4 separate regions of the Homo sapiens genome follow, and all the other regions are linked to region 3. The links come from fine-mapping of genetic effects on gene expression. A gene starts in region 3. Each other region holds a variant in brackets. All regions are shown on one strand. Distances are from middle to middle. Region 1 overlaps LOC105377087 (a long non-coding RNA gene). Region 2 overlaps RAD54L2 (RAD54 like 2). Region 3 holds the start of RAD54L2 (RAD54 like 2). Region 4 overlaps RAD54L2 (RAD54 like 2).

Region 1 (8,116 bases), 250 kb before region 3:
GGAGGTTGCAGTGAGCTGAGATCACGCCACTGCACTCCAGCCTGGGCCACAGAGCAAGATTCCATCTTAAAAAAAAAAAAGAAAAAGAAAAAGAAAAAGAAAAAAAAAGAGATATGTTTGACTGAAATGCTTCACTGGCAAAAGATACTTTCATAAGCAAAGGTTAAAAAAAACAGAAAGGAGAATTGCAAAACAAATGACAGATAAACAGTTTGAATGACTGTAGAGTTGTCCCGGATGACAAAACTACAACCCAATAGAAAAATGGCCAAAAGAATATAAATAGAAGAGCAAATATATATTAGGTTGGTGCACAAGTAATTGCGGTTTGCCACTGAAAGTAATGGCAAAAATAGGCCAGGTGCGGTGGCTCATGTCTGTAATCCTAGCACTTTGGGAGGCCGAGGTGGGCAGATCACCTGAGGTCAGGGGTTCGAGACCAGTCTGGCTAACATGATGAAACCCCGTCTCTACTAAAAATACAAAAATTAGCCAGGCATGGTGACGGATGCCTGTAATCCCAGCTACTCAGGAGGCTAAGGCATGAGAATCACTTGAACCTGGGAGGCAGAGGTTGCAGTGAGCCAAGATCGTGCCACTACCCTCTAGCCTGGGTGACAGAGTGAGCCTCCGTCTCAACAAAAAAAAGTAATGGCAAAAACTGCAATTACTTTTGCACCAACCTAATATTATCAATGAACATATGAAAGTATACCCAATCCTCCCAGTAGCAATAGAAATGTAAAATAAAGTTACTATGAGATGTTACTTTATACCCTTTAGACTAAAAAGAATCTGTAAGTGTGATAATGCCTACTGTTGGCAGAGATGCATGGTGTTCTCATACACTATGGTTGGTGGAATTATGGCTTTCTAAAGGGGCAGTTTGGCATCATCTGTTAAAATTTAATAGGCCCATACCCTTCATACCCTTTGGCCCAGAAGCCACACTGTCCTATGAGAAGCCCTGAGTGATAGCATTTCATGTGTGTGATGACACACATGAAAGACATTTATGCCACACAATATGTAGTGGCAAATAAAAACAATGAACAAAAGAATACCCATAGCTAAGGAAATGGATGCATAAACAGTGGTACTTCCATTCCTTGGAGTATTAGGAGTATTAATTGTCAATAAGAAGAATGGTTAGATCTATACCAGCTGATTTGGTGATATTTCCACAATATATTGTGTTCTCTTTGGCCAAAGGCCATGCATGCAGTGTGTACTATCTATGGATGGAAATATCCTCCTCTTCAGAAAAAAAGCACCTCCAAAGCCTTTGCACAATGCACCCTCAAGGACCCTCAGTGATTACTTATAATCTGTGATTTCAGTAGTCCGTCTCAACAATGTAAACATAGCCTGCTCAGCGCCTCCCAAATGTATTGGACCACTGTAGGCCCCCAGTGCCCCATCTTCCTGTTTTGAGTTGCTACCTGGGACGTATACTTGTCTTGTAGAAGAGGAGGTGCTAAAATTGGTAGATATCATCAATGTCAGGAGATGACAACCTAGTCTTGGAGATGGAAATGGCTCCAATGATAGCACCCAGCCCAAGACAATGTGGCACCTTGCTACACAGAAGACGACAGTGCCTCAGCCCAAGACAACAGGGGACAACACCACCTTTACCTGACCTGGACCCTTGGCCATGACAGTGTCCAGGAAGGTAAGACAACTGATGACTGACAACTCCTGCACCCCCCATCTAGGACTTGGTTACAGAACTCAAATTTGTCTTTCTAAGTTCCCTGATGAGGAGGAACCTTTGGAAGGGCGTTTTACCAAGCTAGTGCATTCCCTGTCACGAAGTCTCCTGGCTTACATTATTGCCTGTGATTCTACCAATTGGCCCATGATACTGGCCAGACCACTCTTGACTGCTGTCACCAATTGTGGCAGGCTAAGTCATGTGTGCTTACCCACACCTCACTGGAGTTCCAATTAACCTAACCATCCCCTGTCTGGCCACACCTCCTACATGGAGATGGACTGAGTTCTGGGTCCTCCAGGATTGGAGACATTTTGACATCTGTTGGGATAGTTATTTTTCTACCACCGCTGCCCCACCTACCACTTCACCACTTCCTCCCCCAACACCTTAGACACATCCTTTGAGGTCTCCCCAAATGCAGGATCATCCACACCATCAGAGATCAGACTGCCCCTCTACTACTACCTCCCCTTATGAGCCTAATAGTCCTAATATTTTAACACAGTGGGATGAAATCAGAGCCAAGCTTCTCAGGAGATGTAATTGTTGGGCCTGTTAATATACCACACCAAAGCTGTTCCCTGAGCTACTCTAATTCCCCCTGGTCTGGCACAATTACCAGCACTACAGATATCACTCTCTCTTGCTAACATAAAACCCAAAATTACAGCCCAACTGCTTGGCATCCAAGGCATACATGTTGTTATTTGCCCCTCCAGAACCCCAAGCAGGGATTGTGTTTACATATCTGACCCAGATTTAACATGACTTGGAGACACTTGGGAGCTCAGTGTCACTTCACCTCTTGGGGCCTAGGGTAACATAGCCCATTTTCAGGTTCTCTAATTCATCCATGGGGTATACCATGGTCCTGTGAAACTTGGGACTCATTACATGCACTCCTGATTCCCACAGCCCACTTCTGCCTCCCTTTATGCAAGGGGAACAACAGGGTCCAGACCCAAATCTGTAACTTCAAATGTGTCCTACCTGTATTAGCTCATTTTCACACTGCTGATAAAGACATACCCGAAACTAGGAACAAAAAGAGGTTTAATTGGACTTACAGTTCCACATGGCTGGGGAGGCCTCACAATCCTGGCAGAGGGTGAAAGTCACTTTTTACATGGCAGTGGCAAGAGAAAAATGAGAGAGAAGGAAAAACAGAAACCCCTGATGAACCCATCAGATCTTGTGAAACGTATTCACTATCACAAGAATAACACAAGAAAGACCAGCCCCCATGATTCAATAACCTCCCCCTGGGTTCCTCCCACAACATGTGGGAATTCTGGGAGATACAATTCAAGTTGAAATTTGGGTGGGAACACAGCCAAACCATATTGTCCCACCCCTGGACCCTCCAGATCTCATGTCTTCACATTTCAAAACCAATTATGCCTTCCCAACAGTCCCTGAAAGTCTTAACTCATTTCAGCATCAACCCAAAAGTCCACAGTCCAAAGTCTCATCTGAGACAAGGCAAGTCCCTTCCACCTATGAGCCTGTAAAATCAAAAGCAAGCTAGTTACTTCCTAGATATAATGAGGATACAGGTATTCGGTAAATACAGCTGTTCCAGATGGGAGAAATTGGCCAAAACAAAGGGGTTATAGGGCACATGCAAGTCCAAAATCCAGCAGGGCAGTCAAACTTTAAAGCTCCAAAATGATCTCCTTTGAGTCCAGATCGCACATCCAGATCACACTGATGCAAGAGGTGGGGTCCCATGGTCTTGGGCAGCTCCGCCCCTGTGGCTTTGCAGAGTACAGCCTCCCTCCTGGCTGTTTTCACAGGCTGGTGTTGCGTGTCTGCGGCTTTTCCAAGCAAACAGTGCAAGTTGCCAGAGGATCTAACTTTCTGGGATCTAGAGGATAGTGTCCCTCTTTTCACAGCTCCACCAGGCAGTGCCCCAGTAGGGGCTCTGTGTGGGGGGTCCAACCCCACATTTCCCTTCTGCACTGCCTTAGCAGAGGTTCTCCATGAGGGACCCAGCCCTGCAGCAAACTTTTGCCTTGGCCTCCAGGCATTTCCATACATCTTCTGAAATCTAGGCAGAGGCTCCCAAACCTCAATTCTTGACTTCTGTGCACCCACAGTCTCAACAGCTTCAGAGGGTGGAAGCTGCCAAGGTTTGGGGCTTCCACCCTCTGAAGCCACAGCCTGAGCTGTACATTGTCCCCTTTCAGCCATGGCTGGAGCACCTGGGACACAGGGCACCAAGTCCCTAGGGTGCACACAGCATGGGGACCCTGGACCCAGCCCACAAAACCACTTTTTCCCCCTGGGCCTCCAGGCCTGTGATGGAAGGGGCTGTCATGAAGTTCTCTGTCATGGCCTGGAGACATTTTCCCCATAGTCTTGGGGGTTAACATTAGGCTCCTTGCTACTTATGCAAATTTCTGTGGCCAGCTTGAATTTCTTCTCCATAAATGTTTTTTTTTTCCACTGCATCATCAGGCTGCAAATTTTCTGAACTTTTATGATCTGTTTTCCTTTTAAAATGGAATGCTTTTAACAGCACCCAAATCACCTTTCGAATGCTTTGCTGCTTAGAAATCTCCTCCACCAGGTACCCTAAATCATCTCTCTCAAGTTCAAAGTTCCACAAATCTCTAGGGCAGGGGCAAAATGCTGCCAGTCTCAC[C/T]AAAACATAGCAAAAGTCACTTTTGCTCCAGTTCCCAACAAGTTCCTCATCTCCATCTGAGACCACTTCAGTCTGGACCTTATTGTTCATATCACTATCAGCATTTTTGTCAAAGACATTCAACAAGCCTCTAGGAGGTCCCAAACTTTCCCACATTTTACTGTCTTCTTCTGAGTCCTCCAAATTGTTCCAATCTCTGCCTGTTACCCAGTTCCAAAGTCACTTCCACATTTTCAGGTATCTTTTCAGTAACACCCCACTCTACTGGTACCAATTTACTATATTAGTTCATTTTCATGCTGCTGATAAAGACATACCTGAAACTGGGAAGAAAAAGAGATTTAATTGGACTTACAGTTCCACATGGCTGGGGAGGCCTCACAATCACAGCAGGAGATGAAAGGCACTTCTTACATGGTGGCAGCAAGAGAAAAATGAGAGAGAAGCAAAAACAGAAACCCACCAGATCTCTTGAGACTTATTCACTATCCCCTGATAAACCCATCAGATCTCTTGAGACTTATTCACTATCATGAGAATAGCACAGGAATGATTGGCCCCCATGATTCAATTACCTCCCCCTGGGTCCCTCCCACAACATGTGGGAATTCTGGGAGATACAATTCAAATTGACATTTGGGTGAAGACATAGCCAAACCATATCACTACCTAATGTCTTTGGGCCCTCCCTTATATTCAAGTAGCCAAGACCCCTTGGTTCCCAGCCAGACCATATTCATTCTGACAAATGTGAGCTATTTTTATTTCCATACTCTTAGGAGCAGGCTTATTCACTAGCAGGAACTGTAATGAGTACTGCCACTGTAACACAGCAACAAATCATTTAGGTCAATACAAACTTGTCAGCTATGCTGTCCCAACACATAAATCTGATATAGCACAGTCTCACCCTGGTGCAACAATCACATGACTCTCTAGCCCAGGTGGTATTAGATAATCACCTCACCCTAGATTAGTTCCTGGTCAGAGCAGAGGGGAGGGAGTCTGCGCCATCTAAGGAGCAACCTATTGCATGTATATAAATAACTCTGACCACGTATAAACCAATCTAAAGGCCATGGCCCAACAAGTACAGGTATTTTGTGAGCTTACCCAGTTTTATAACATTTCCTCTCTGGCTCTGGGTAAAATGTTTGACCCGTTCACTTGGCTTGATCTTACACAACCTGCCCTTTAAGAATGGGTAAAGGAAGTCCCTCTGGTGGAAATGAAAGGACACTAGAGAATAACTAATATTAGACAAAATAGAATGTAAGACAAAAAATTCTTCCAATAGACAAAAGCATTGTATAATGATGAGTCAATCCATTAATACATAATAATTATAAGCATATATGTACCTAATAAGAGCCCCAAAGTATAAGAAGCAAAAACTGACCCAGATAAAGGGGGAAATAAACAGTTCAACAACAATGGTTGGAGACTTCAACATCCCACTTTCAATAATGAATAGATGATCACCTAGACAAACGATAAACAAGGAAATAGAATATTTGTACATCACTACACAGCAACTAGACTTATCGAACCTATATAGAGTACTCATCCAACAGCAGAATACCCATTCTTTTTAAGTACACACAAAACATTCTCCAGGATAGACCATATGTTAAGCCACAAAACAAGTCTCAATAAATTGAAAATGATTGAAATCATAAAAATATCTTCTCTGATCACAGTGGAATGATCATAGAAATCAACAATCAAAGGAAATATGGAAAATTCACCAATTTGAGGAAATCAGCAACACACTTCTAAACAACTGATGGGTCAAAGAATAAATCACAAAAAAATAGAATTTACTTTGATATGAATGAAAATAAAAGCACAATGTGCAAAAACCTGTGGAATGCATCAAAAGCAGTGCTCAGAAGGAAATTTATAGCTGCAAATGGCTACATTCATTAAAAAAAAAGAAAGATCTCAATAACATAGCCTTCTACCTAAAGAAACTAGAAAAAGTATAGCATTCTACCTTGAGAAACTAGAAGAAGAGCAAACTAAACACAAAGCCAACAGGAGAGAAATAGTAAGATTATAGCAGAGATAAACTAAATAGAAAATTAAGAAAAACTATAGATCAGCAAAACCAAAAGTTGATTCTTTAAAAATATCAACAAAAATTGGCAAACCTTTAGCTACACTAAACAAGCAAAGAGACATAAGACTTAAAGTACTAACATCAGAAATGAAAGTGGGAACACTACTACCAACTTTATAGAAATAAAAAAGATTATAAAATAATACTATGAACAATTGTATATAAACAAATTAGATAACCTATGAAATGGGCAAATTCCTAGAAACACACAAACTACCAAAACCAACTGAAGAAGTATTAGAAAATCTGAATAGCTCTATATCAAGTAAAGAGATTGAATCAGTAATCAAATCATTTCCAATAAAGAAAAATCCAGGACCGATTGTCTTCACTGGTGGATTTTATCAGACATTAAAGAGAAACCAACACCAATTCTTCTAAAATTCTTCCAAAAAATAGAGGAATAGGGGCACTTCTTAACTAATTCCTTGAGGCCAGCATTACCCTGTTACCAAAGCCAGACAAAGACACTATAAGAAACTAAAGAGTGATATCCCTTATGAATATAGACTCAAAAATCCTCAGAAAATAGTAGCAACTCAAATCTAATAGCATATTAAAAGGATTATACACTATGACCTACTGGGATTTATCCCAGCAATGCAAAGAAGGTTCAACATACAAAAATCAATGTCATACATCATATTAACAGACTAAAGGGGGGAAAACACACAGTTACCTCAATTGATGCAAAAAAGGAATTTGACAAAATCCAACACTCTCTCATGATAAAAACACTAAATAAACTAGGAATAGAAGGGAACTTTTCCAACCTGCTAAAGATCATCTATGAAAAATCCACAATGAGCATCATAATTAATGGTGAAAGATTGAAAGATTTTTCTCTCAGATCAGGAGCAAGATAAGGATGTCTGTTTTCATCACTGTTATTCAACATTGTACTGGAAGTTCTAGCCAGGGAAATTAAGCAAGAAAGAAAACTAAAATGCCCACAAATTGGAAAGGAAGATGTAAAACTAGCCGGGCACAGTGGCTCACACCTGTAATATCAGCACTTTGGGAGGCTGAGGCAGGAGGATCACCTGAGTCCCGGAGTTTGAGACCAGTCTGGGCAATATAATGAGACCTCATCTCTACAAAAATCATAAAAAATTAGCCAAGCATAGTGGCACGTCCCAACTACTCAGGAGGCTGAGGTGGGAGGATTGCTTCCAGGAGGCGGAGGGTACAGTGAGCTGAGATTGCACAACTGCACTCCAGCCTGGGCAACACAGTGAGACTCTGTCTCAAAAACAAAAAAAAAAAAAAAAGAAAGAAAAGAAAACTATCTGTTTGCAGATAACATGACCTTACATACATAAAAACATAAAGAAAATCCTAAAGAATCCACAACAAAATCTATTAGGGCTAAAAAACTAATTCTTCAAAGTTGCAGGATATAAGATCAACATACAAAAATCATGTGTATTTCTACACACTAGGAGTGAACAATTCAAAAATGAAATTAAGAAAACAATTCCATTTGTAATAGCATCAAAAAGAATAAAATACTTAGGAATAAATTTAACCAAAGCAGGTGAAAGACATATACAATGAAAACTACAAAACACCATAGAAAGAAATTAAAGATGTAAATGGAATGGAAAGATACTCCGTCTTCGTGTGT
Region 2 (7,593 bases), 49 kb before region 3:
TGACACCTAGGGACTCTAACAGCATCTCAGGAACAATGAGAGCCAAGCAAACATTACTGTCTTCCATTATTTCTATTCATTCTACTTTCTAGAAATGAGACTCCAACTGAATAAGCTAGCAACAGACAGCAAATGCTACTGGAGGGATAAAAGTGAATGGTCATTTCCCCGCAGAAATGGAGAGAGGCTTCTGGACAGTATAAAGGAGGGCAAACGGATTCCCAAGCCACATGACAGCTGTTAGGATGAATGAGAACTGAAGATAGTAAACACCAGTAAAGACAGAGGATCAGTGCTCATCCTCCTGGAATCTGGAGAACGGCAGGAGTACATTTTCCTACGTTCCTTCAGATTCAAGTAATTAGATGATCTAATGCAACGTTCAGTCCCACTAGGGGGTCTGTTATGAACAGACAAAAACCCTATTCCTCAGTCAGTAGGAAGCTTACAAACAACTAAATCCTATGCCATAAAAGGCTGGAATTAATTGAGAAGCCTTGTGGCTGGCCAAATAACCTAACATTAGACTGAACATTAAAAGTTCAATGCCATTTCAAGAAGCTGAGGGCAAAGGAAGGAGTGAGCTGAGCAAACCAAATAGAAGGCATCAAAAGGGGATCTACCAGCTATGGAGATGTAGTGCCCTCCCAGTAGGGGCAATTTATAGTCACTGGAATGGCCAAGAGGTAGCGCAGCACTGCAGGAGATGCAGTGAGCTTTCTGAAGTTGTGAATCTGTCTAAGAATCTCTGCCTGGACAATTCCCTCATGTACACACAAGCACAATTGTATGTATAATTTCAGAAAACTTACAGACCACTCACAGTTACCCTCACATCTACCTGAAGAGCCCATGGCCTCCAGACTGCAAAGTCTTACCATAGGAACTCTGCCATTGACTCCTCCATGACCTGGGCAAGTATGCAACACTCGAATCTCTGGACCTGAGTCCAAACATCTGTCAGAGACAAGCTAAAGGCTAAAGGTTCTTCCAGCAGTAAAACAAAGCTTATGTGGAGGAACAATAATCTATTTCCTAGGAATGAGCATCTGAATTCATTGCATCTCAGTTCCTAGTCTGTATCTTCCCACTATGGATGGCCTAAGAAATCTAACTGGAAACGCCAAGGTCTCCCAGCAAAAATTCCACTGGAGGAAAATATAAGGCAACTTCTGTCACTCAATAGAGCCCACTTACCATCCAGCAGGTCTTCTTCATCATCCCTGTCACACTCCTCCACTGCCACCTCCTCCTCCTCCTCCTCCTCTTCCGCATCCTCCAGCTCCACGTCCGGGTCCAGGTCTGGATCGCTCCCTGAGGCAGATTCGTCTGACATGGCTCCCAGAGGTCCTCAGTGGGCATTACCGACTCATGGTCCACTGCAGGGGTGCTAGGAGAGGATGAAAGGCATCAGAATCACCAAGGGTTTTGCTTAGGAACACAAGTCTTTCAAAGAAAAAAATGCTAGCTGGGCACAGTGGCTCATGCCTGTAATCCCAGCACTTTGGGAGGTCAAGGTGGGTGGATCACTTGAGGTCAGGAGTTCGAGACCAGCCTGGCCAACATGGTGAAAACCCATCTCTACTAAAAATACAAAAGTTAGTCAGGCATGGTGGCACACACCTGTAATCCCAGCTACTCAGGTGGCTGAGGCATGAGAATTGCTTGAACCGGGGAGGCAGAGGTTGCAGTGAGCCAAGATGGCGCCACTGCATTCCAGCCTGAGCGACGAGGTGAGACTCTCTCCAAAAGAAAAACAAAGAAAAAAATGCTGAACATGAATTCCCCGGAACTTCTCTAAGCAAGGCAAGCTAACCGTATCCAAATCACCACCTTCCCTATGAGTGTTCTGGCTCTGAGACATGTTTTAGTGACTCTGCATAGCTCAAACATCTCTTGGCTATTTTGACAAGAAAACACCTTAAAGTAACAATAACAACAAAACTATAAACCTTGGAAATCCCATTTGTTCATTCCTTCCTGTATCAACTGTTTCCTGAGCACCAACTCTCTGTATCTATTTATACATATACATATATGTGTGTGTATGTGTGTGTGTGTGTGTGTGTGTGTATATATATATATATATATGTATAGAGTCCCCAACCTGCGATGGTTTAACTTACAATTGTGCGAAAATGACACACATTCAGTAGAAACTGTGCTTCAAATTTTAAATTTTTCCCAGGCTAGTGACATATGGAACTATACTCTCTGGCAATGCT[G/A]AGTAACAGCAATGAGCCAAAGCTTCCAGTCCACCATGCTATCATGAAGTGTGCAGTTTTCTGTGCTGCCAGATGATTTTGACTGTAGACAATGTAAGTGCTCTTTATTTTATTTATTTATTTTTAGACAAGGTCCAGCTCTGTTGGCCAGGCTGGAGTGTGGGTGGAGTGCAGAGGCACAATCATAGCTCACTGCAGCCTCAAATTCCTGGGTTCAAGCAATCCTTCTGCCTAAGACCTCCTGAGTAGCTAGGACGACAGGCACATACAACCATGCCTGGCTAAGACAGTGTTAAGTGTTCTGAGCACCTTTAAGGTAGTCTAGCCCAAATTATGATGTTCAGTAGGTTAGGTGTATTAAATAGACTTTCAACTTACAATATTTTCAACTTACGATGCATTTATCAGGATGTAACCCCATTGTACATGGAGGAACAGTTGTATATAATCGCAGGTGCTATTCTAGAGTTTGGGGACACAGCAGGAAGCAGAACAAAGCATGCAGGGAATACTTAGGGCTGGTGTGTGGCAGGAGGAGCTGCTAGTTTATATAGGGGAGGTCAGTGAAGTTCTCACTGAGCAGAAACCAAAAGGAAGGAAGGAAGCCGTAAAGACATCTTGAGGGAGTGTGTTCCAGGAAGACCGAGCACCAACGGCAGAGGAGGAGTGGCTGGGAGTACACAGGAGCTAGAAGTATGTTTTACCCAAGTTATTCATTCATTCACATTCAGTCCATCATTTGCTAACCTGCTATACTATGTCTATCATGTGTCAGGCACTGTGCATGTCTGTCTCTCTTATCACTTTACTATTAGCTGTAAAGGCCATTCCTTCGTGAGGGTAAAAAAATAAAAACCATGGTAAAGAGATGGCTAGTTGGGTTAGCTCTTTGATAAAGTAAATATAGCAAAATGTTAACTAGTAAATTCACTGACCAATTCTTTCCATTTTTTCTGTATATTTCAAATTTTCTTTTCTTTTTTTTTTTTTTTTTTTTGAGATGCAGTTTCACTCTGTCACCCAGGCTGGCATGCAGTGGCACGATCTCAGCTCACTGCAACCTCCACCTCCTGGGTTCAGGTGATTCTCCTGCCTCAGCCTCCCGAGTAGCTGGAACTACAGGTGTGCACCACCACACCCAGCTAATTTTTGTATTTTTAGCAGAGACGGGGTTTTACCATGTTGGCCAGGCTGTTTTCTAACTCCTGACCTCAGGTGATCCTCCCGCCTCAGCCTCCCAAAGTGCTGGGATTACAGGCATCAGCCACTGTGCCCAGCCTCAAATTTTCACACTAAAATCAGAGAAGAGGTAAATCATCTTTTTTTTTTTTTTTTTTTTTTTTTTTGAGATGGAGTCTCACTCTGTCACCCAGGCTGGAGTGCAGTGGTGCGATCTTGGCTTACTGCAAGCTCCACCTCCTGAGTTCATACCATTCTCCTGCCTCAGCCTCCCAAGTAGCTGGGACTACAGGCGCCTGCCACCACGCCCGGCTAATTTTTTGTATTTTTAGTAGAGACGGGGTCTCACCGTGTTAGCCAGGATGGTCTCGATCTCCTGACCTCCCAAAGTGCTGGGATTACAGGCATGAGCCACCGCACCCGGCCATAAATCATCTTTTACAAGACAAACTGCTGCAGATAAATACATCAACAATCAGATCATCCTCAAATTCCTATCTCCCAAAATAAAAACTGAAGTACAAGTCTCTAGTCATTTAACATAAAAAGTACTGCAGAACTGCAATATCTTACTAAGCTTCAGATAATTTGAAACATAACATCTATCTTCTCCTGAACAGAAAAGAAAAAAAGAAAAGCAAACTAGATTATTTAGAGTTTTGGAAAACTAGAACTTAAGAATTGTTCAGAGTTAGAAATAACAGGAATTACGAGTGTGTGTGTGCAGATGGTTCATGTACTTAGCCTCTCAAAGTAAAAAACAGCTGTGAAATGATCTAGTAATAAAATTTAAATTTTTGCATTAATAACTCACTTCCAAAAACATCTGCAAAGGGCATTAAGGGACAGGGGATAAATGTGATCGACAAATACAAATTCATATAGTTAATGCTGAGCTACCATTCACTTAGTGACCTGGCAGATTTTAAATCTCTGCAGAAACGACTATCCGGCCAGACGTGGTTGCTCATGCTTGTAATCCCAGCACTTTGGGAGGCCGAGGCAGGCGGATCACGAGGTCAGGAGATCAAAACCATCCTGGCTAACACGTGTGAAACTCCGTCTCTACTAAAAAATACAAAAAATTAGCCGGGCGTGGTGGCGGGCGCCTGTAGTCCCAGCTACTTGGGAGGCTGAGGCAGGAGAATGGCGTGAACCCGGGAGGCGGAGCTTGCAGTGAGCCGAGATCACGCCACTGCACTCCAGCCTGGGCGACACAGCGAGACTCCCATCTCGAGAAAAAAAAAAAGAAAGAAATCACTACCCTGTGTCACTGGTTCATTTAATAGGTTTTAGAAAGGAAGTAGTAAATCAATTAGATATCAACAACTTTGAAAGTAAAATTTACTTCTTAATATTTGCAGTGAAATTTATTTCTGAATGTTAGTATATTCATCAGTAACTACTCTGTGTTTGGAAGTCAATGGTTGTAAACAGCACAACCCCTCTCTTTCATCCTAGACTCCTTGAGATAAGAGTGTTTTGGCCAGGCATGGTGGCTCACATCTGTAATCCCAGCACTTTGGGAGGCTGAAGTGAGCAGATCACCTGAGGTCAGGAGTTCAAGACCAGCCCAAACAACATGGTGAAACCCCCATCTCTACTAAAAATACAAAATTAGCCAGGCATAGTAGCGCATGCCTATAATCCCAGCTACTCGGGACGCTGAAGCAGAAGAATCGCCTGAACCCAGGAGGTGGAGATTCCAGTGAGCTGAGATCCCACCACTGCACTCCAGCCTGGGCAACAAGAGTGAAACTCCATCTCAAAAAAAAAAAAAAAAAAGTGTTTTCTTTGCAGTGTGCTTGGCTGATTTTAGAGAACCATTTTTAATTAGCAAGTACTTTTAGGCAACCTGAATGCCTGTCATTCTAGAGAAGAAATTGTGTGGTGGCGACAGAGACTTCCAAAAAAAAAAAAACAAAGGCAACAAAGAGCCTGGTGTGATGGTTCATGCCTGTAATCCCAGCACTTTGGGAGGCCATGGTGGGGGAATTGCTTGAGCCCAGGAGTTCAAGACAAGCCTGGGCAACACAGCGATGCCCATATCTACAAAATATACAAAAACTAGCTGGACTTGGTGGTGTGCACCTGTAGTCCCAGCTACTTGGGAGACTGAGGCAGGAGGATCACTTGAGCCCAGGCAACAAGTGAAAAGGAGGAAAGGCTGGTCTTGGTGGGCAGCAGCAGTCAACTGTATTCTTCTCTAAGGGGCTCCACCCTCACACACACATACGTCTATGTGGGCATAGCCTTTCAGAACACAAGGCAGCCTTGATTCAGTAGTCAGCTCTTAGCAGAACTGTTAGACAGACATGGTTGGTGGCGGTGGGGGCGGGGTGGTGATAAAGAAAATAATCCATCTCCCTCATTTGCTCCTCATTCTAGGCAAAACACTGCTACAATCTCCAGTGACAAGGGGCTCTGCCTCTAATACACAGAAACCAGGAGAGCAATAATGGGTATGCTGCACCTTAATGAGGACCTGTGTTCTTACAGTGCAAGTTCTGGGAATCAAATTGTATTTTAATGAAACTGGAGAACTAGCTATTTAAAGGAACTCTAAAGAGGACCGCTCTGAAAAGCAAATATTCAACCCCTAAGTGTTTTAATAAGTCTACAGTTTAATATATTAGGTTTGTTAAAAGGAGGCTGTAATTATGAAGAAACCCATAGCCAATCCTAGCCTAGCACCTCATAGCAATCGTGAGAGTGAAGGAAAATATTGTTCTGCCTTGCTAAGTTCAAAGACAACGCCACCTGTCAATAGAGTGGTACCTGGCCAACAATCAGCAGAATTAATCATGCAGGCACAGGCCTTAGAGACATGAGGCATGGCAAGGTGGGGATATTAGGATATACACAAGAGGAAACACACACACAAACAAAGCCTTTGTTCACAAAGCAGACGACCAGGCTTGCAGAGTTCACACTGAAATCATAAGACTCCGAGCACACACGCTGCCTCATCATTGTGAGGCAGCTCATGAAATTTCACAGATGTCATTATGGTCCTTGATAGCATCATGATTGTTCCTTTTAAATAAAAAGATCCTTCCCAGACTGCCATGTCCTCATTAATTTTGGTGACCTTCAGTAGTACTAAATTCTGTCAAGTGGTCTCAAAGCAAGTCCACAGCAAGCGCAAATGACTTGTTTTTTTTCTTGAAGAATATCTATACAAAACACTGGATTTGAGCTAATTTACAAGGGGAAGAAAGTCTTTTAAGAGTAGAAAAACAGGCCAGGCATAGTGGCTCACTCCTATAATCCCAACACTTTGGGAGACTGAGGCAGGAGAATCGTTTGAGCCCAGGAGTTTGAGACCAGCCTGGGCTGGGCTTTTTTGTAGAGAAGACCCCACCTCTACAAAAAAAAAATTAGCCAGGCATAGTGGTGTGTACCTGTAGTCCCATCTACTTGGGAGGCTGAGGTGGGAGAATCACTTGAGCCCGGGAGGTTAAGGCTGCAATGAGCCATGACTGTACCACTGTACTCCAGCCTAGGTAACAGAGCCAGTCTCGAAAAATAAATAAATAAATAAAAAATTTTTAAAAAGAACAGCAGGAAAACATTCAGTCCAAAGTTTTGGTCAATACCCTTAAAAAAAATAGACAAGGAATTTATATAATTCAAAGACAAAAGAAAGTTCAGTTACTCTATAGTAAGTACTATAGAGTATATATATTATAGTATATATAGCATATATATATATATATATAGTACTGTAGAGTACTATACGGAGTATAGTACTCACCAAGTACCCACAGAATTCTTCCAGTCTGCTGAGAGATCCACTATGGACTGTTAAAGTTCTTTCCAAATACCTTCCTATGCAAAACAGACACTACTCCAATCACACCCAATGCATACTTCAAACCTCCATGTAGCCCAATGCCTTTTGAGTGTCTATCAGTTACATAAAGAAAATTTAGATACACACAAAGCAGCCACAGAGCTAAACTGACACAACAGCTCAACATTTTACTTGGAAATATAATGATGATTTTGGCAATTTGAAACTTAAGAGAAAATAAGAAACAAAAGGTGAACAAATGCATTCAAGACTCGAAGGACCAGGGCCACAGAAGACAACTCTCTCCACAGGAGACAACTACCTCCAAAAGATAGCACAATGTAGCCTGGCCCAGGGAATCAGAACCTAGCATAGCACTAAAGACATGTTTAC
Region 3 (8,116 bases):
CACTTCTGGCCTCTACTTATTTTTCTCTTGAATATTAGTGGGACTTTTTTTTTTTCCTGTCTTATTGGGAAAAAATAAAACTGAAAGTTCTATAACTAAGTCTGTTCATCAAAAACATGCCTGAACAGAGTGCTAGATTTTACCAAAGTAGCCCCAATTAAAGAAAATGACAAATCTCTCCTGCATCTGGAGAATTCCTGGCAAAAACACCAAAGCCAGGTCTCTGGTGCCAGCAGAAGAATGCCAGAGAAATGTCCTGATCAGGGGCCATATAGAACACAATGCTGCCTGGTATACTTTAGTGTTCTATCAATGGGAGAGCCCGCTGTTTCCAAACAAGAACATGCCAAACAGTTACCTCCTGGCTTCCCCATACAAACTGTCAGGAAAAAACCTTCTACTGCCAGGAATGACCTTGGACTTTATAGTGTGGACTCCTGCCTACCGGCACTGAATAAAGACAACCTTGGCCAGGCGCGGTGGCTCACACCTGTAACCCCAGCACTTTGGGAGGCCAAGACGGGCGGATCACGAGGTCAGTAGATCGAGACCATCCTGGCTAACACGATGAAACCCCATCTCTACTAAAAATACAAAAAATTAGCCGGGTGTGGTGGCAGGCGCCTGTAGTCCCAGCTACTCGGGAGGCCTGTAATCCCAGGGAGGCTGAGGCGGGAGAATGGCGTGAACCTGGGAGGTGGAGCTTGCAGTGAGCCGAGATCGCACCACTGCACTCCAGACTGGGCAACAGAGCAAGACTCCGTCTCAAAAAAAAAAAAAAGACAACCTCAAAATTTCCTCACCTGTCCAGAGTGCCAACAGGTGCAGACAGCTGCCTTCCTCACCAGACAAGGAAACTTGAATCCTGCACAGCACCACAGTACCCAGCCACATTCCTACTATTAATACTACTGAGATTAGAGGTCCTATATAATAATACACATTAACTACTACTGACAACCAGCACTGACCACCCTCAAAGCTTGAGGCCCTCATCTCCAGTCCTCGATGCAATCTGCAAAGAAGGCTGTATTAGGCCCATTTTACAGATGGAAAAACAAAACCAAACCAAAGCTCAGAGAGGTTAACAGCTTATCAAGGGTCAAAAATTGAGCAAGAAAAAGTGGGAAGACTCCAAAAACCAAGCTCTTCCCATTGTACCAGACATTTCTTCTCTCAGACTTTTTCTAAAGAAATAGAAAACTCTAAGCCTTATTTCCAAGAGTTTCTGAAGTTGATCCATTTAACTAAGAGGTGGCCAAAAACATTTATTTAAGCAATCACCTTGCCTTTAAGGCAACAAATAAACAAGTTTTTATTTTCTTTGATCAAGTGAATAGTCCAGATGGAAAATGAGAGCTATTTTGAAGAATTCATTTATTATTTAAATACCTTGATTTTACATTTCTTCATTTATTTTTGCCCAAGATATATACACAGAGAGATAGACAGCAAAAGGCAGAATTTCATTTTAATAGATCAGAATGAAGAGTAACAAAGCAAAAAACATTCAGATTTACATTATATTTTATGCAGTAAAAATTAAGAAGCAAATGACTTTCAAACAGACTGAGCCTTACCTCAATCTTACTCCTCCTGTTCCAAGGGACAGCACTCCAAGTGATCAGCAGACACTCCCAGCCTACATACAGTGAACCAGACATAGGGGATAAGCAACGCCTTCATGCTCCCAAAACCACAGTGGGAAGGAGTGTGATGGCTTCCTGGGGAATCTGAACACATATAGTATTTGTAAATCACTGCTCGTTGAGACATACACCAAAACAAAATGTTTTACCTGTGGTTTGTCTACAGGAGTACTTAAAATTAACAGGTGTATAAAATAGTGCAAAAATAATCCCATACCAGCATGAACTCACAGTGATAGCTAAACTTTTTCCATGGAGATGTTAAGATAATTAACTGTCACCAGTCAAAATTAATACATTATAAAAACTTTATTCAATGTCTTTACTGATTAAAAGCTTGATATACCTGAATCACTTCTTTCTTCATAGACCTATAACCACCTCTAAACCAGGAACTACCACTAACAAAATGTTAAAAAATATCATCAGCATTTTTGAGGTGCCCAAAGCAGTGCCTGGCAAAATGCAATAAATGTTCGTTTATGAAAGAATGAATGGAGAAAGAGAAAGAATACTACTTTTTTTTTTTTTTTTTTTTTTTGAGTCAGAGTCTCGCTTTGTCGCTGAGGCTGGAGTGCAGTGGCACGATCTCGGCTCATTGTAACCTCTGCCTCCCAGATTCAAGTGATTCTTGTCCCTCTGCCTCCAGAGTAGCTGGGACTACAGGCACATGCCACCCCACCGGCTAATTTTTGTAGTTTTAGTAGAGACAGGGTTTCGCCATGCAGGCTCAATCTCCTGACCTCATGTGATATGCCCGCCTCGACCTCCCAAAGTGTTGGGATTACAGGCGTTAGCCACCACACCCAGCCAAGAAAGAAAGAATACCATTGAAGAAAAATAATTATTTAAAGCTTAAGGAAAAAGATAATGTTTACAATAATGAGAACTATCAGTACAACTACAAACAGAATTACCTAACATTGCACTTGAAAGTTTATACTAGACTCCAGTTAGGCTATATTTCCTACCACTCTAAACTCAGAAGGTACAATGATTCTGATACTGTTTTTGTTCATGTAGGGTTCCCTTTAAACCTCACCTACAGACAACACACCAACTTTTGCCTGAATAATACATACAGAGCTCCGGCCCACAGCTGCAGGCCTCAGAGTTGGAGTTTGCGTACTGTCTTTCAATGATATAGATTGTCACAGGGAGACAGTGTACAGGCCAAATTCATTGAAGATGGATAATACTTCTAGTGAAGACAATGTCCTGTGAGAGTAAACAAGGATGCTGAAATGAGAGTCACTAAGATTTAATAGATTCAACGAACTCACTTCATGGCAGTAAGAGAAGATGAAATTTCATGGATTTAAGGATGGAAAGACCATTTAACAACATAAATGTTAGAGTTTTCTTATCCTTCTTTAGTGTTGCACACATTAAACAATGGTACACAAATTAGTGAAAAGAAGCTTTTAAATTTAGATTTATAAGAATTGGACTGAAAACGCCTGGAACTTACATGTATGATGAAGTCTAAGTTTGTCTATCATTTCAAATAGCCACAGTGCTGAAAAGAAAGTATGAGTCACAATTCAAAAACAACGGAGGAAAGAAAAAAATGAACAGAGAAAAGCTTTGGATCCAAATACCACAAAGAAATTCCTTACTTAAAATGTTGTCAATGACAGTCACCACTCTGACTTGGAGTAAGAAAGGTCCACACTGTCCTCTACGTGGGAACAAACTCATCCAGCCCCACATAACCCTTCCAGTTGCATCCACCTCAATGTTCAGCCACCAATATAGTCAGCCACAATCCCTAGCAAGCAACAGGAATCCTAACAGATCTGAGTCACCCACTCCCACGCAGTAAGAGGTCACTCTCCATCAGGAAGCCCACTCTGCAAAGTTTCCTTGTTCATCTCCCAGGCTGCCACCACCATGACCCACATAAAGCTGATTCTCCAATCTCAGTAGCCTATCAACCCTCCTCTACACTCCCCAAACCACAACTCCCACCGGCCTCACCCTAACGACAAGACAGCTAGCACTACTCACCGTGTGCCACTACTCACTCCTGTGATAAGTTCCTTGCCTGAAAACCACTCCTCGTCAGGGTGCATCAGGGCCCCGGAGGATCCAGCTCTCTGCTTAACTCTCTTGTGCCCAGCTGAGCTCCTGCCTTTCCAGGAACTAATCACCAGTTACCTCAGGGAAGCTAAACTCTCAATGCCTCTTCTGCCCCAGCCCGACCCCAGTCTGCCAAATTCCCAGACCTCAGGAGAGGGGGTCGGGGAGACGCATCCAGATGCGCCTTAGGGATTAGACACACAGAAGCCCCTAAAATTCCAAATACTTTCCCAACCCCACACCGCGCTCTGGTCATCCTCCGGGGCGCCAGCATCCAGAGCCAAAAGCGCAGAGGGGCAACAGTTAAGTCTCCGTGTCCCTACGACTCCCTTCCCCGGCTACGAAATCCTCAAATATCAAGCCACTGAGGCCCCGGGTCGAGGCCCAAGACCCCCGCCAAGCCTCCGGCCACTGGAGTTTCCCGGGTGGGGGACCCCGTGCCCCGAAGGCCCGGGCCGCTGGGTCCATCTAGCTGCCCCGAGCCACTGCATGGCAGGGGCCCAGGCCGCGTCTCCAGTCGGTCCCCATTGTTGCGGGACCCGGCGGCCCCGGCCGGGAGCGAGGAACCGGCACCGGCGTCTCACCTCCTGCGCCGCGGCTCCGGGCCGCGCCGGACCGCGCAGGGCCGAGGGACCTCACGTTCAGCTTCGCCCGCCTAGGCAAAGTCTGCGGCGGCGGAGGCGGGGGCGGCGGCTGAGGCGGGAAGCAGCCGGCCAGGCCCGGGCGCCGCGGGCTGGCTCTGGCCAAGCGTCGGTCTCCACCGGCGGCGGCGCTCGCCAGCCTCCGCTCACGGTCCGCGCCAGAAAGCGTCCCCCTCCCGGCCCGCGCGCCCGACCGCACGGACGGGAACACGCGCCGCGGAGAGGAAAGTTCCGCTGAGAGCCGACTGAAGGCCGTTCCCCTGCGCCGGGTGTACGGCGATTCCTGCCTGGATGGGACCGTTTCTGGAATGAATGCCGCACAGAAATCCCAAGCCAGAAGCTGCCTGAGAATGGTTCTAGGGGTGGGTCCAACGGAATGGTTTTGCACTCGCCAGCCATTTAGCATCTCAATTGAGCCTCAGTTTCTCCTCATTTCTCATTGGGAATAATCTAGGCGGCTTGTTAGGATTGAATGAGGTGATGCGAATACCTAGCTCAGAGATAGGGAGCTCTACACCGGGGTACGATCGTTACTGATCCTGCCAATGCTGCTGCTACTGTTGCCTCCAACATAGGTTGTGCTCAGCCCTCAAGGGCCCTTGAAATTATGCGCATCATGTAACTCTTCTTTTTTCACCCTCGGTCCCCACCTACCATCCTGTTTCCTGTTAAGTGAAGCTGTCTTCAGAATTCCCTGGAAGAGAAGCAGAGGCAAAAGGGGGCTTTCTTGATTGCTGACACTCAGGTGGAGGTTAAGGGTGCAGGTTCTCCTTCCTCAAGTTGGGAATTACTGCCATGTGGCCATGTGGGCTCCAGTTACTGATGGGACTGTAACGGCTCTCTCCACTATAGCCTCAGGTTCTCTTCTCCTCTTCCCAATAAGTGAATGTTGACAAAATGATTTTTTTTTTTTTGAGAAGGAGTTTCGCTCTTGTCGCCCAGGCTGGAGTGCAGTGGCGGGATCTTGGCTCACTGCAACCTCCGCCTCCTGGGTTCAAGCTATTCTCCCGCCTCAGCCTCCCGAGTAGCTGGGATTACAGGCGCCCGCCACCACGCCCCGCTAATTTTTTGCATTTTTAGTAGAGACAGGGTTTCGCCATATTGGGCAGGCGGGTCTCGAACTCCTGACCTCAGGTGATCCTGCCCACCTCTGCCTCCCAAAGTGCTGGGCCACCAGGCGTGAGCCACCACCTCTGGCCGACAAAGTGATGTTTTAAATTACAAAAGTGCATCTTTCTTTGAAGGCTTTGTATTTTACTCATAAAATCAAGAGGATAGCAATTCCTTTCTCGTCCCCACTTTCCTTTTCTTCTAGGCCTTCACACCTCTAAGATACCAGATGCGGTTATTTTTGGAGCTAACTCTTGATGGGAATTTAGATCTGCAGAAGGTGTTCCAAAAAAAATCCTAATTTTCAGGTGTTCTCAAATTTCCCATTTTTACATACCCCCTTGGCTTCTGAGACACATATATGCCTGATTTTTCATTTATATTATTTTCTGGAGGTAATGAAAGGGTTCTGCCTGTCAAAAGGCACTTTGCTATCTAATATGGATCTGTGTCCCCACCCAAATCTCATGTTGAATTGTAATCCCCAATGTTGGAGGTGGGGTCTGGTGGGAAGTAATGGGATCATGGGGGTAGATCCTTCATGAATGGCTTAGCACTGTCCCTTTGGTTCTCTTCTTGTGAGTTCTCACAAGATCTGGTTGTTTAAAAGTGTATGGTGTCGGCTAGGCGCGGTGGCTCATACCTATAATCCCAGCACTTTGGGAGGCCGAGGCAAGTGGATCACCTGAGGTTAGGAGTTTGAGACTAGCCTGGCCAAAATGGCAAAACCCTGTCTCTACTAAAAATGCAAAAATTAGCCAGGCATGATGGTGTGTGTCTGCAATCCCAGCTACTCGGGAGGCTGAGGCAGGAGAATCACTTGAACCCAGGAGGTGGAGATTGCAGTGAGCTGAGATTGTGCCACTGCACTCCAGCCTGGGCAACAGTGAGGCTGTCTTAAAAAAAAAAAGTGTATGGCACCTCCCCCCACTTCTCTTTTCCTCCTACTCCAGCCTTGTGAGGTGCTCGCTCCCCCTTCGCCTTCCACCATGAATGTAAGTTTTCTGAGTCCTCCCCTGAAGCCCAGCAGATGCCAGCATCATGCTTTCTGTACAGCCATGAGCCAATTAAACCTCTTCTTTATAAATTATCCAGTGCCAGGCATTTATTTATAGCAGTGTGAGAACAGACTAATAGAGTGTTCCTTCTGGAAACAGCAGGCTCATGGGTTAGAAAGCAGCACAGTCAAAGCCTCTGGAAGCTTCTCCGCTTCCTCAGGTAAGAGGAACTTCATCCTAGGTTCTTCAGAGGCAAAGAATGCCTCAAAAGCTGGTTCCAGCCAAGTGCAGTGGCACATTTCTGTAGTCCCAGCTTCTCAGAAGGCTGAGGCAGGAGGCTCACTTGAGCCCAGGAAGTCAAGTTCAGCTTGGGCAATATAGCAAGACACTATCTCTTAAAAAAATAAATAAAAATTTTAAAAAGCTAGTTAACTTCTCTCCAGCAGCCTGAGGTCAGATCAGCATTCCGACCCCTCCCAGCTTCATGTCTTGCATTTTACTCATTTGGCCTCTTAGCTGGGACTCTCCGGGTGACACATAGAGCATATTTGGCCTCAGGAGTTGAAACAGGTTCACATGAAAGCCCCAGAGACTACCAAAGAGAGGAGAAAGAAACCAGTCAGGTTGGCCAGATATATTTAAACGCACACACACACACACACACACACACACACACACACTCCTATTGTTAATCCCCCCACCCCCATCCCCTGGCCCCCAATTAAAAGACTTAAGGCACAACCACCAAAACATAGACACTTACCTTTCTCATGTCACTAAAGTAGGAGCCACAAAGGCCAGAGCTAGCTCCCCTGGTGATGGAAGCCTCTTCCATTCCCTCCTCCCAGGATGGCATTGTCCTTCTGTAACATCTGTTTCCCCACCCTTCTAGAAATTCCCTGACTACTTGGATGATGTCATGCCCGCACAACAACCTCTGAGATTCATGGTACCCCAAAATTCACCTGTAGAAAGATTTGGTTCTATTAGGGGAAGTCCCTAGAGTGATTTATGCATACACCTGCCTATTGTTGGCTATACCTTTAAGTGAGTTTAAAAGATCTGGGACTGCCCTTCTGGGATTAGGCAAAATTCACCAGGGACTTGTTGGTTAATCAGAAACCAGAACAAGGTTTTCTTCATCACCATGAAAACACACATGGAAAAACACTCTCTTCATTTTTTTTTTTTTTTTTTTTTTTGAGATGGAGTCTTGCTCTGTCACCCAGGCTGGAGTGCAGTGTCGTGATCTCGGCTCACTGCATCCTCCACCTCCCAGGTTCAAGCCACCCTCTTCATTTTATCTGTTTCACCTCCTGCTTATTCCGTGAGAGTTAGATCAATCCTGCACCCACCAGCCACACTTAATGGCCCCCCCTCACTTCTGAATGCCAAAGCCATGATCACTCTGAACCAGATTCCAAGGTGACAAAGGGTTGTATTGCTTTCTTCAACAGTCATCCCATTCTTGGGATATTTTTACCTTTTCTGCTTGTATACCACTCATCACCCAGATTATAATGTCCTAGGAGATTTTTTAAAAATCGACCCCAGTATCTAATGACGGCCTAGCATAATTGCTACGCCATAAAATTCCCCATTCAGCAACTATTTACTGGGTACCAATATGTACCAG
Region 4 (5,000 bases), 98 kb before region 3:
AGCCAAAGGGCCTGCATATTTGTTTTGATTATCAGTTCTGGTCACCATGACACATGAATGGCAGCATGCATACCAGGAGCCATGCCAGTAAGTATGTTTGATACATAATCAAAAAAGCTGTCACAAGCCTTTTTGACATTCTTATTCAAATAAGAGTAAGAATGTTCCAGTTTCACAGTGTGGCTACAGTCTGCTACTGTATAAAACTATAGACAAAATGTATCTGACTTATAGTAGACCAATCACATATCATTTCACAGAGTATTCCTAGCAAGAGTTGAGAACTCCCAGGAGAAGAGAGGAAAGGAAGAAGGAAGGATGCAGTGATACCAAAGCATCATCACAGACCACGCTTGCCTTAGTTTCCTGGCCTTGACCCAGGACTGTGGCTATAAAAGAAATATTTGGAAACCCCTCTTGTCCCCAGACACATACCTTCTGCTGACTTATTAAAGCAGTGGTCAATTAAGAATAATACCTAACAGGTCTGCTGAAGAGTAGCCAGGGGTAGAGGTATGAAGTCAATGAAACAGGTCCCTCAAGAAAAGAATGAGAGAGGTCTCAATCTGATTAAGTATGGAATCCAATGGAAGGTACCCCTAATAACTTGTCTAAGCTATATATCTCTTGAATTCTGATTATGCTAGCAGTCAAAAACGCTGCCCCACAGTATTTTTCCATTAATCCCCTTGGAATAACAAGTTGTGCAGCTGAGTTGCACACTGCAGGGGGCATCAGTTATATTACACTGTGTGAATGGCACCCCCAGGAGTTATGTGGTACAAAACCATCACCTCTCTCCTTGGAGCCCCCAAACCTCCAGTGCAGTGAACTGAGGTGGCCCCCTCTCACTTTATTCTCCCTTTATTGAAGACTCTCAGTAGGAGTAACTCCCTTGGGACCATGTGTATCCTTAGTCCCCATCTCAATCTTCCCTGAGGCCCCAATGCACCTTGCAACACACACAGAATGCCTTAAGGGGGTTCAGCCCCAGCCAACCGCTGCTACCACAGTCCCGGAAGCGATCCATGAACTGTGTATACAAATCTCGCTGGATCTTGGAGAGCCGCACAAGGATCACATTTTCTTCCTTGGCAGGGAGATGAATCTTCAGCACAGTGTGGCCTCTCCTATGGAGGCAAACAGAACAGAAACGGCAAGGTAGTGTGGCCAGGAGGGGTCAGCACAAGATAAAAACAGAGCCTTTTGCACTCCTGCCACACCTCCCTCTTGAGGATCTCAACATGCACTGCAGCCTTGCAATAATGCAGAGTGGTTCAACAACCAAGAAGAAACTCACCTTAAGGATGAAAACTAACACTAAGAGGCAGAGTGACCTGTCCCAGGTCAAGTCTGACTGCATGACAGAGACAGGGGAACTTGAGGTTCTTACTTTAATTTGGGCTGCCTCTCTGAGCTTTCGCTCCATATGCCATCTCAACAAGGAAAAATGAGGGGTCTGCTTTAGACTAGCCTAAGGTAAGTCAGCAGAATGGTACCTTTTTCTTGCTTCTCTCAGCAAGTAAGACAGGTGTCTCCAGTACCTTTAAAGATAACTTTTGAGAGAAGCACTTCTAGGCCAAACTTTCAGAGAACTGAAACAGTGGATATCCACCATCTGCTAGCTTGTCACAGGAAGCAAAGTTTTACTACTGCCCCAGGGAAGGGGCCCTCCTACTCCAACACCCTATCCTGTATAACAGGTTTGGCATGCCCTTGGCAACAGGGCCCTCTGAAAATTCAGGAAGCAGGACCCTGAGGATGGCTCACCTCTGCACAAAGCCCTCCAGAAGACTGTGCAGGACATGGCTCCGGTACCGCATGAGGCGGACGTCCTGAGGTGTGCTGTCAATACATTGCCCATTCAGGATAGGGCGTTCAAACATGTTGCTGAACTCCTGCCGGGTGCCAAGGAAGTCTGGGCGCACAAAGTCCACCATGCACCAGTACTCAATGAGGTTGTTTTGCAGAGGGTACCCAGTCAGCACCACCCGGCGGCGAGAGCGGATATTCTTCAGAGCCTGTGAGGTGCTGGCCTGGCAGTTTTTGATGCGGTGTCCCTCATCACAGATTACTACATCAGGGCCAGGGCGGCATAAAGCCTTCTCAAACTCTAGGGAGGGAAGAGGATCCGGAGTCAGAGGGTGACAGGGCCTGCTCTTAGTCAATAATATGAGAAGTAGGGGTGCACCCTGGAGGAGACAGAAGAAATGAAGGAAGCAGGAAAGCAAGAGTCAGCCCCCCTTGGTGAGAGGGTGCCAGCCATTCAAGCTCCTGGATATGACTGGTATGACTTGGTATGAATGCTAATCTGGCAGTTGACTCTTTTTTTTTCTTTTTTGAGACAGAGTCTCACACTGTCGTCCAGGCTGGAGTGCAGTGGCGCAATCTCCGCTCACTGCAACCTCTGCCTCCC[G/A]GGTTCAAGCGATTCTCCTGCCTCAGCCTCCCAAGTAGCTGGGATTAGAGGCATGCGCCACCATGCCTGGCTAATTTTTTGTATTTTTAGTAGAGATGGTGTTTCACCATGTTGGCCAGGCTGGTCTCGAACTCCTGACCTCATGATCTGCCTCTGGCAGTTGACTCTTGCAATAAATATCCCTTTCCCCCGTTCCGTTCCTTTCCTTACTTTATTTTTCTTTATGTGAAAAGTATAACTGACTTGCATTCCTAGGGCTTAGACCAACTGGGCAGCAGAGAGAGGGACCTTACAGAGTGCCAGCCTAGGATTAAAAATGCACCTGGATGAAACCAATAGGAATAATCCAGACACTTTAGTAGGCTCTCACCATTGCCAGCGTCTTGACTCCATCTGAGGGCTGGCTGGTAGGAGCTAGCTAAAGGACAGGGTCTTCCCGCAGTTATTTTCCAGTCATTGCTAAATGGCAAATTCATCCCAGCTCTACCATAGAAGCAAACCTAGAACAAACATAATCTCATAGATGAAGAGACTTCTAAAGTGAAATGGCCTCTGAACCCTTAAAAACATTCTTCCCCAAATGAGCAAAGGCCCCTTAGAAGATGGAGTAGAATTAGAACTATGACAGGAATGGTTTTCACTAAAAACAACTGGGATAAATTCTTTTTTATAAATTCACAAACAATAGTATTACTACTTTGTCTTTATATTAGTGATTTAAACACTTTATATTTTCTTCATGCTTTCTCAGAACATCTCTAGAAAGTGGTAAAGGAAATGGTTACTATTCCAACTGTTCTGTAAGAGAAACAGGGATAGACGAACAGAGGAATCTCCCCCAAGCCAGTGTGTGGCCTGGCCTAACCATAACTGCACAGCTGGCAGAGAAAGCAGTACCTTCTCAGAGCCATTGGAAGTCATCCTACTGATCTTGGGAACCAGGATTTTTGGTCCATGATAACAATTCACATCAATAATGCACTTTACATCTGACTAGGTGCTATTAGTAGACATGATTTCTTTTTTCCTGAAACACCAACAAGAGTATTCCTGGGATAGGCTGCCCACCTCTCCGAAACTCCTGCTGCCGATCTTCCTCATCTAGATCAATGATGACTGGGTGAGAACGCTTCTTGGTTTTCTTCGGTCTACCTGTGGCAAATGATTTCTTCAGAGTGAGGAGTCTGTACATCTCGTACCCCATCAGCAGCACGCCACCCTCTGACACCCAATCAGCCATCACTTTAGCACGAGATGCCATCGTCCTGCAAGATGAACAGAGAAAATTGTGTGAGATGTGAATTATATCTCAAGAATTATTGTTTCTGCTGCTCCCAAGGAAGAATTGCTCACAATCAAAGCTGTGTTGATGTACATTCAGAACTTCTTATTACCAAAGATTTCATGTGGCAGCAAGCACAGGGGTAGCCTACCACCCAAGAACCTCCCATCATCCCAGAGAAACTAATTGCACTCAGGATGAACTGGATCATTGATGGTGGTTAAACAGCAAGAAACATAGCAATTCAACTACATAAGGCAAGAGAAAATGACAACCCCCTTGGATATTCAGGCATGACTACAACTCAACATTTGAAGGAGCATTTCAATCCCATGATAAATACAAGGTCACAGAAGGAAGGGCAACATTCTGCAGTTTACTTGCCTGGACTCAAGTGAATAAAGAGCCACAAACAGTAAAGAGGAAAGAGGAGAAGAGACCAGATGACCCTCAGTAAGTCACTCCACTTCCAAACACCGGAGCACTCACTGTATTTCACTGATTGCATGTGGACTAAAAGTCCTGAATGAGCAACCACCTGTGAGGTCAACTAATCATCTCCTCATTTTTATGTGTGTGTCCAAACATCACAAAAGGCACCCTCTGAAAAAAATATAGTAAAGTCTACTTTCTCAATTATCCACACCAATGAGGGGAAAGGTTAGCATGTAGAGCTGGTTTGTTGGATCAAGAAATAGCTTTAGACTTTTGGAAATCAGGTTGACTTTATGGCATACATATATAGATAATTTTATTTAAATCTAAAACAAAGCAAGGCTGACACCTTTCAAAGCTTTGGGAGTTGTACCATTAAAGGTCAATTGCAGACCAGTGCTTAAAAGAAGTGACTAATGATTAGGTTTTTAAGAAAAGTGAAATGTAATAAGTAAAAAATTAGACAGTAGAGACCAGGCATGGTGGCTTACGCCTGTAATCCCAACACTCTGGGAGGACAAGGTGGGCGGATCACCTGAGGTCAGGAGTTCGAGACCAGCCTGGCCAACATGGCAAAACCCTGTCTCTACTAAAAATACAAAAATTAGTCGGACATGGTGATGGGTGCCTGTAATCCCAGCTACTCGGGAGGCTGAGGCAGGAGAATCACTTGAACCTGGGAAGCAGAGGTTGCAGTGAACTGAGATTGCACCACTGCACTCCAGCCTGGGTGACAGAACAAGACTCCGTCTCAAAAAAAAAAAAAAAAAAAAAAAAAAAAATCAGACAGTGGAAAGATCCATTGTTTCGTGTTGAATTTTACTACGATATGCATGGGAAAATATGACCATGCCCACATATTTTTCA

The links. PIP is the estimated chance that this variant, and not a neighbour inherited with it, causes the effect.
Region 1: its variant is the best candidate, but not a certain one, in a credible set for the expression of RAD54L2 in spleen (GTEx, PIP 0.78).
Region 2: its variant is the best candidate, but not a certain one, in a credible set for the expression of RAD54L2 in whole blood (INTERVAL, PIP 0.66).
Region 4: its variant is the best candidate, but not a certain one, in a credible set for the expression of RAD54L2 in unexposed skin (GTEx, PIP 0.55).

The regions. Positions count from the first base shown.
Region 1 is chr3:51,783,609-51,791,724 of GRCh38, reverse strand. All of the region lies in intron 2 of LOC105377087 (a long non-coding RNA gene), which reads right to left. Among named protein-coding and RNA genes, the nearest start is that of IQCF6, 8.4 kb to the right of the region's middle. The variant C/T (reference allele first, on the strand shown) is at 4,368.
Region 2 is chr3:51,584,164-51,591,756 of GRCh38, reverse strand. It overlaps RAD54L2 (RAD54 like 2), which reads right to left. Exons shown (of 23, transcript NM_015106.4): 3 at 1,198-1,390. The coding sequence starts at 1,336. Among named protein-coding and RNA genes, the nearest start is that of RAD54L2, 49 kb to the right of the region's middle. The variant G/A (reference allele first, on the strand shown) is at 2,226.
Region 3 is chr3:51,535,115-51,543,230 of GRCh38, reverse strand. RAD54L2 (RAD54 like 2) reads right to left here and starts at 4,512. Exons shown (of 23, transcript NM_015106.4): 1 at 4,316-4,512; 2 at 1,581-1,642. It overlaps LOC105377085 (a long non-coding RNA gene), which reads right to left. Exons shown (of 3, transcript XR_940835.3): 2 at 7,244-7,445; 3 at 6,562-7,072. RefSeq lists enhancers at 3,536-3,625, 4,444-4,738 and a silencer at 4,156-4,555.
Region 4 is chr3:51,634,274-51,639,273 of GRCh38, reverse strand. RAD54L2 (RAD54 like 2) reads right to left here. Exons shown (of 23, transcript NM_015106.4): 10 at 3,485-3,681; 11 at 1,771-2,113; 12 at 953-1,130. Among named protein-coding and RNA genes, the nearest start is that of TEX264, 34 kb to the left of the region's middle. The variant G/A (reference allele first, on the strand shown) is at 2,417.